2 linked regions of the Homo sapiens genome follow. The protein of the gene in region 1 purifies or fractionates together with the protein of each later gene. This does not show direct contact. Each region holds a gene or a part of one and is shown on either strand. Other genes may lie near its edges.

Region 1 (3,322 bases):
ACACGCATGAGACCCTAGTAACCAGAAGCAAAGCTGGCAAAACTGTCTGCAGGAACAGAGAGGAAGGTAGAAAATTAGAGAAAAAAGGAGTGAAGCAACTTAGTGGCTCCTGACCCCTCCCAGATCTCCCTTCTGGGAACCCACTCCCCTATTAGGGAGATTTTCTCAGACAGTTCCTGCAGCTCCCAGGCTCTGCAGGGGCTAGAACCAACCACAGAAACAAGACCAAGGCACTGCTTCTCAAGAAGAAACTGACCTCATGCACTGTCTGAGTTACCTCAGCTAGAGAGGGTGAAAATCATCAGTTATCATCAGGGCAACAAATTGCTTTCTCCTAGTTCATCCTGGACTTACAATATGAAAGAGACATTTCCCAGCCCAACAGACAATACATAATTCCAATTAGCAAAGACCTCCAGGGTTGAGTGGACTCCTAGTGTTTTTTTGTTTTGTTTTGTTTTTTTATGACACGACTGCACGATGTGGATCTGGTCCTGCCTATGTGGTTGTTCTCAGGTACAGGAATGTGTCTAAGCATGGCCTCCAAAGGTCCCTTGGAAACCCCTGGCTGGTAGGGAACCCGCACTGTGCCATCAGCTACAGTCCACAAAGGTAAATGAACAGATGCCACCAGGAAATGAGGATGGACTGGCTCTGTGTGATCATAAGCTCAGAGCATCAGGGAAATGGTCATTTGAAACTAAGAAAACAGATTCAAATTATTCTGAGAAAACCGACTATTCACAGACTCGTGTCCCAGGTTTCAGAACCCGAAAATCTCACTCCTGATCAAAGGTTGCTGCTGCTGCTGCTGCTGCTGCTACTGCTATATGTGTGTGTGTATGTGCGTGCGCGGGTGCACACGCATGTGTGCGTGTGTGTGTGTGTGCGTGTGTGTGGTGCTGAAGAAGTGGAGGTTGCTTGGCCTTCTCTACTGGGTGTGGCCCTGATGAACTCACTGAGTGCTGAGGCTGGCTACAATGTCCTATCAGAGGGGAAGTAATACCACAGGAGCACATCAAGACTACAAACATAAAGAACCATGGACACTGATTTCATCCAAGTTCTACAGGGAGTGAACAAAGAAAAATAAATAAACAAAAGAAAGAAAAGAAAAATAGCCCTTTGTAGTAAAGGGCATGCTGGGAAGGCAAGAGCCAGAGCCGCCTCCCCAGAGCATGCTGGGAGGAGGGGCACCAGAGCCGCCTCTCTAGAGCATGCTGGGAGGATGGGCACCAGAGCCGCCTCCCCAGAGCGTGCTGGGAGGATGGGCACCAGAGCCGCCTCTCTAGAGCATGCTGGGAGACGGACACCAGTACATCTCCAAGGACTGCACTTCCCCCGACTCCCACCCCATTCCCTCACCCACCCCCAACCCGGAGACTAGAGGAAAGTCTGTCCAAAGATGACTGTGGAATAGGGAATGCCATGGTTCTCTGCAGGTCCCCCACACTATGGGGGGTTAAGTCAGCAAGTAGGGAAAACAGTCAAGACGAGGAGATGGAGAAACAGAGAGGCAGGAGAGAAACAGGGGGCTGACAAAGATGGAGGGGCCATTGTGTTGCCGGAGGACGAGGGGCTGCTAGCCGGAGGCATTGATGTACAGCTGGCTTTTGAGGATGTAGTCGATGACCGGCTGGGACAGGTAATCCACAACATGGCCGTCCCCATGCTGCAGGGCCAGCCTGCACAAGAAGAGATGACAATCAGATGGACATCCACACCCAAAGCAAGTCAGGAGGACTGGCATGCCCCTGTCTCCCCAGCACCCCATTTGTAGCCTTTTCTCAGGTTGAGTAAATAGTTCTGTATTAGGAAAGGCCCTCTTGCCTCCACAACTCCTTCCCCACCTTGGTGACATCATTCATCGTGGTTCTGCCACTTCCTAGGTGAGAGGCCTTGGGAAAGTTATTTAAGCCCCTCTGTTCTTCAGTTTTTTTCCTGTAAAATGAGGGTAATATCTGGGCCCCTCTCATTTAGTTATTCAAAGGATTAAATGAGTCATTATGCAAAGCACTTAGAAGAGTGCCAGACACACAGTGGGCATCTAATGTATTCACTATTCTTTTTTCTCAAATAAATTGTATTGTGTATATTTAAGTCATACAATCTGATGTTGTAAGATACACATATATTATCATCATATAATATAGTATATCTATGTTATATTACATATTTATTATATATTTTATAATTTATATATTATACTATATTATATTATTTATATAATAGTGTTAATATTATATTATATTATATTATTTATATAAGTGTTAATATTATATTATTTATATAATATAGTTTAATGGTTACTGTAGTGGACCAAATTAATATTCATATATCCATCATCTCACTCAGATATGTATTTGTTCTTCTTGTGGCGAGAATAGCTATAATCTACTAATTTAGCAAAAACCCTAAATATAATACACTATTATTAGCTGTCATCCTCATGTCACACATTAGATCTTTCAACTTGTTTGTCCTACATATTTGCTACTTTGTATCCTTTGACCTGTATCTCACCACTTTCTGCCCTCCACACTTGACCCTGGTAATCATGTTTTATTCTCTATCTGTATGTTTAAGATTCCATATATATTCCTACATATTTGCTGCTTTGTATCCTTTGATCTATATCTCCCCACTTTCAGCCCTCCACACTTGACCCTGGTAATCATTGTTTTATTCTCTATCTGTGTATTTAAGATTCCACATATAAGTGAAATCATGCAATATTTTTATTTCTGTGTCTGGCTTATGTCACTTGGCAGAATGTCTTCCAGGTCTAGCCAAGTTGTGGCAAGTGGTAGGATCTCCTTTTTTAAGTCGAATAATGTTCCACTTCCGTGTGTGTGTGTGTGTGTGTGTGTGTGTGTGTGTGTGTGTATGTGTGTGTGTAAGAACACATTTTCTTTATCTATTCATCCATTGATGGACGTCTAGGTTGTTTCCACATCTTGGCTACTGTGAATAATGCTACAATGAACTTGGAAATGCAGATACCTTTACAAGGTGGTGATTTCATTTTCTTTGGGTATATACCCAGAAGAGGGATTGCTGGGTCATATGACAGTTCCGTTTTTAATCTCTTTAGGAACCTCTATTCTGTTTTCTATAACGGTTGTACCAATCTACATTCCCACCAACAGTGTACAAGGGTTCCCTTTCTCCACACCCTCATCGACATTTGTTATCTCTTATCTTTTTGATAATAGCTATTCTAATAGGTGTGAGGTAGAATCTCATAATGCCTTTAATTTTTATTTCCCTGGTGATTAGTAATGTTGCGCATCTTTTTATGCACCTGTTAGCAATTTTTATG
Region 2 (3,500 bases), on another chromosome or scaffold:
AGGAGGCGCAGAGGTTGCAGTGAGCCAAGATTGTGCCAAGATTGTGCCACTGCCTGGGTGACAGAGCAAGACTCTGTCTCAAAAAAAAAGAAAAAAAAAGTGACCTCTGGCGTGGATTTCTCCAAGGGCTTGTGTGCACATTCCAGCCTGTCCCCATCCTGGCCAGCAGGGTGACCCTGGGCAGGACACTGAGGCCCAGTCCCTCATCTGCCTGCAGAGAGGGCTGTGGGCACCAGTAGGGTGGTGTCTAAGAGCCTGGGGGGCAGCAGGGTCACGTATGAGGGTCTGGGGACAGTGGGGGCAGAGGCTATGGTTCCTGACGCTGTGGTTGGCACAGTGGGCTGGCCCTGGACATGGGACTCCATCCCTTCCTAAGGGGTCCTGGGGGTCCAGGACTGCTCCCAGCCTGGTCCAGAGAGAGAGAGAGAGGAGAATTCAGTCTCCCTGTGGACTCCCAGAGTTAGGGACAGGACCCCTGAGCAGCTGTCCTCCCCGACCCCAGCCTGTCCCGACCCTCGTCCCGGCCTCACCTGTGAAGAAGATGTAGTCGAACCTGTGCTCTAGCAGCTGCCCCGTCTCCTGGGGCCCGCCCAGCACCACAGCAAAGCAGCTCTGCAAGGCGGGATGGGTGAGGCTCCTTCTGGGACCCCAGCTCCGAGAACACAAGGGAGCAGCCCGCCCTGCCTGGACCCTGCCCTGCCTCCACCCCGCCTGGCCTGACCCAGCCAGGGCTCTAGGAGGGTTGGGTGGAGGCAAAGTGGGGAGAAGGGAGCTCCCCAAGGTTGGCTGGCATTGGCAGGCCCAGCTTGGAGTCCAGCTGGCGCTGGAGGGGCTGATGCCAGGGCCAGGTGGAGGCAGACACGGAACCCCTGGGCAACAGGCTGCCCTCGCTGCTCCTCAGAGGGAAACTGAGGCTGACAGGGGCGGTGACTTGGTCAAGTTTACACAACTCAGAAGAGGCAGGATTGAGGTGGGGACTCGGGTCTGACTGACAGGCCCTTCCATGCCAGGGGCTGCCCAGCCCTTGAGCCTTGCCTGTTCCCGCTCTACCTGCCCGGCAGCCCTGCTCACCTGGTCCACGTATTGGGGCAGCACCTCGGCCAGGATCTTCTCGACGTTCTTGCTAATCTCCGATGGCTTCAGCACCACACAGTTCCCTGCAGGGCAGTGCAGGGAGAGAGCTGGAGGAGGCGTAGCCAGCTCCTGGTCTCCACACACCTGCAGGGCAGGCATCAGCCTCACCCACTTTCAGATGCAGAACCTGGTTCAGAGAGGTAACATGACGGGCCCAGGGCCACACAGCCCGGGGACGGTGGACCAGACAGTCCTCTTTGCCACCTGGGCCAGTTCTCCCATGTCCTCCTGGGATCCATGGGTGGCCCTGAGGCCTCGAGCGGAGAAGGGTGACCGGAAGGGGCAGGCCCAGCTCTCACCTGCAGCGAGGGCTCCCACGAGGGGCACCAGCGTCAGGTTCAGCGGATAGTTCCAGGGCGCAATGATGAGGACCAGGCCAAAGGGCTCCTTCCGGATGAAGGCGGAGTCCAGCTGCGTGGCCTGGGCCGGGAGCCGGGGATGAAATTAAGTGCTCAGCACCCCGGCCCCTCAGCAGCCAGCTCCCACCCAGAGGGGCCACCCTGTGGGAGCAAATATCCCCTGAGCCCCCTGCCCGCCTCAGCCCGGCCGGCTCACCAGGTTCTTGGGCACACGCTCGTCCTTCATCCAGGCCCGGAGGTTCCTGAGGGCCAGGGTGACCTCGCCCTGGCTGATGGCAACCTCAGACACCTCCGACTCGAAGGCTGACTGCAGGAAGTGGGTGGGGTCAGGGTGGGCCAGGATTCCCAGAGTTGGCAGGAGGGCACAGCCTCCTCCAGGCAGGGCCTGCTTCCACAACTCATTCATTCATTTTCATTCATTCGTTCACTCACTCACTCCATGTTCAGTGCGTGCTTCCTGTGTGAGGTGCTGTCTCTGTGCCAAACAGAGGGACCGGCCCTGAGGCCGACCTTGCAGGGGGCAGTCGTTCCATGTGAAAGTGAGAACGCTGACGGCTCCATTAGGACGTGGCTGTGCTAGGGAAATCATGGAGCAGGGTGGGGGTGGAGACTGCTGGAGCGTGTGGCTGTGGGCGTGCACAGGTGTGCACATGTATACATCCACATGAGCATGTGTGTGTGTGCTGTTTTTACAAAGCGGTCAGTGCAGGTCTCCAGGCGGCGGTCACATTGGAGCAGTGACCTGAAGTCAAGGAACAAGCAAGTCGTGGGTACTGGGAGGCGGCATACTTTGGGCAGAGGCCCTGGCGGCTGCAAAGGCCCCGAGGTGGCTGTGCGCTTGCTCTGCTCCTGTTTAGCAAGAAGCAGAGTGGGCAAGGTGAGGGGGCCAGGCAGCCAGGCAAGGACTCCTGAGAAGAGCAGGGATGGGATCTGACTTAGGGTTTTGTTTTTTTTTAATTTCAAAAAAAGTTTGTTTTGATTTTTTGCAGAGTGCCTTGCTGTGTTGCCTAGGTAGGTCTTGAACTCCTGGCCTCAAACAATCCTCCCACCTCAGTCTCCCAAAGAGCAGGGTGGAGATTGGTCCACAGGAGACACAGGCACAGCCACCCCTAGGTAAATGCTGTCAGTTCCCACAGCCCAGGGGCCAGGGCCACTGTCAGGCTTCTAAGCAGGAGTGAGGAGACCCGAATCAATAGGGACATTGTCCTGCTCTCGGCTAGCCAGTGCTCCCTGCCCTCTGCGCCCCAAGGGAGGAGAGACCAGCCAGGCAGCAGGCTGCAGGCCGCTGGAGAACAGGTCAGGGACACTGGGGCCAGGCTGGCTCCCTGGCTGAGGCAGCGCCTGAGGTTATGGGGTGCAGGCTCTCCCGGGTCAGGGCAGAGGGGGACGGGCCAGTGGGGTGCTGGATGGGCCAGAGGACCAGCGAAGCCCAGAGAAGGAGATGCCCTGCCTGAGGTCACTCAGCGAACCAGGGGCAAGGCCAGGGCTACAGCTGAGCCCCAAGAGGGAGGAAGACGCCACGCCCACTGGCACCTCCTAGCCACTGAGGCTGGGGGAAGGTGCCTTCCACACGGACTTTCCCACAGCCTGTGCTCTGGCCCCATGAGCCTGGTGGCCTGCCCGCCACACCTCCTAGGTCACCTGGGACCTGACTTTGGGAGACTGGGCTATTTTGAGCCAGGTTCAAACTCTGGCTCTGCTCTTCCTGGCTGCATGCCCTTGGGCAAGAACACACTCTCTCTGAGCCTCTTCTGGGGGCCACTGGGTGTGGTTGCCCAACCAGATTCACCAAAGGGTTAACTGAGAGGGTGCACGTGACGCTGGGCAGATGCTGCCTGCTGAGGGTGGGGACAGGGGGGTGACCAGGTCCAGAGGGAGGGACCAGGTTGAATGTTCTGGGCTACTGCTGCCTTTGTAGGGCCCCGCTCCTGCAGCTGGGATGGGAAGGCAGGAGGTGGAATCAGAGCCGAAGGGAGAAAAGGGACCAGACAGACGTCAGGTCAAGTC

What was found.
Region 2: the proteins of NMNAT2 (region 1) and ALDH3B1 purify together in Homo sapiens (affinity purification with mass spectrometry; one large-scale study listed by BioGRID and IntAct). This does not show direct contact.

What each region holds. Positions count from the first base shown.
Region 1 is NC_000001.11:183,251,059-183,254,380, forward strand, and holds part of NMNAT2 (nicotinamide/nicotinic acid mononucleotide adenylyltransferase 2), read right to left. Parts: intron 1,686-3,322; coding exon 1,583-1,685; 3' UTR 1-1,582.
Region 2 is NC_000011.10:68,016,827-68,020,326, reverse strand, and holds part of ALDH3B1 (aldehyde dehydrogenase family 3 member B1), read right to left. Parts: intron 1,801-3,500; coding exon 1,690-1,800; intron 1,555-1,689; coding exon 1,434-1,554; intron 1,158-1,433; coding exon 1,072-1,157; intron 613-1,071; coding exon 531-612; intron 1-530. UniProt on the Homo sapiens protein: Oxidizes medium and long chain saturated and unsaturated fatty aldehydes generated in the plasma membrane into non-toxic fatty acids. May have a protective role against the cytotoxicity induced by lipid peroxidation.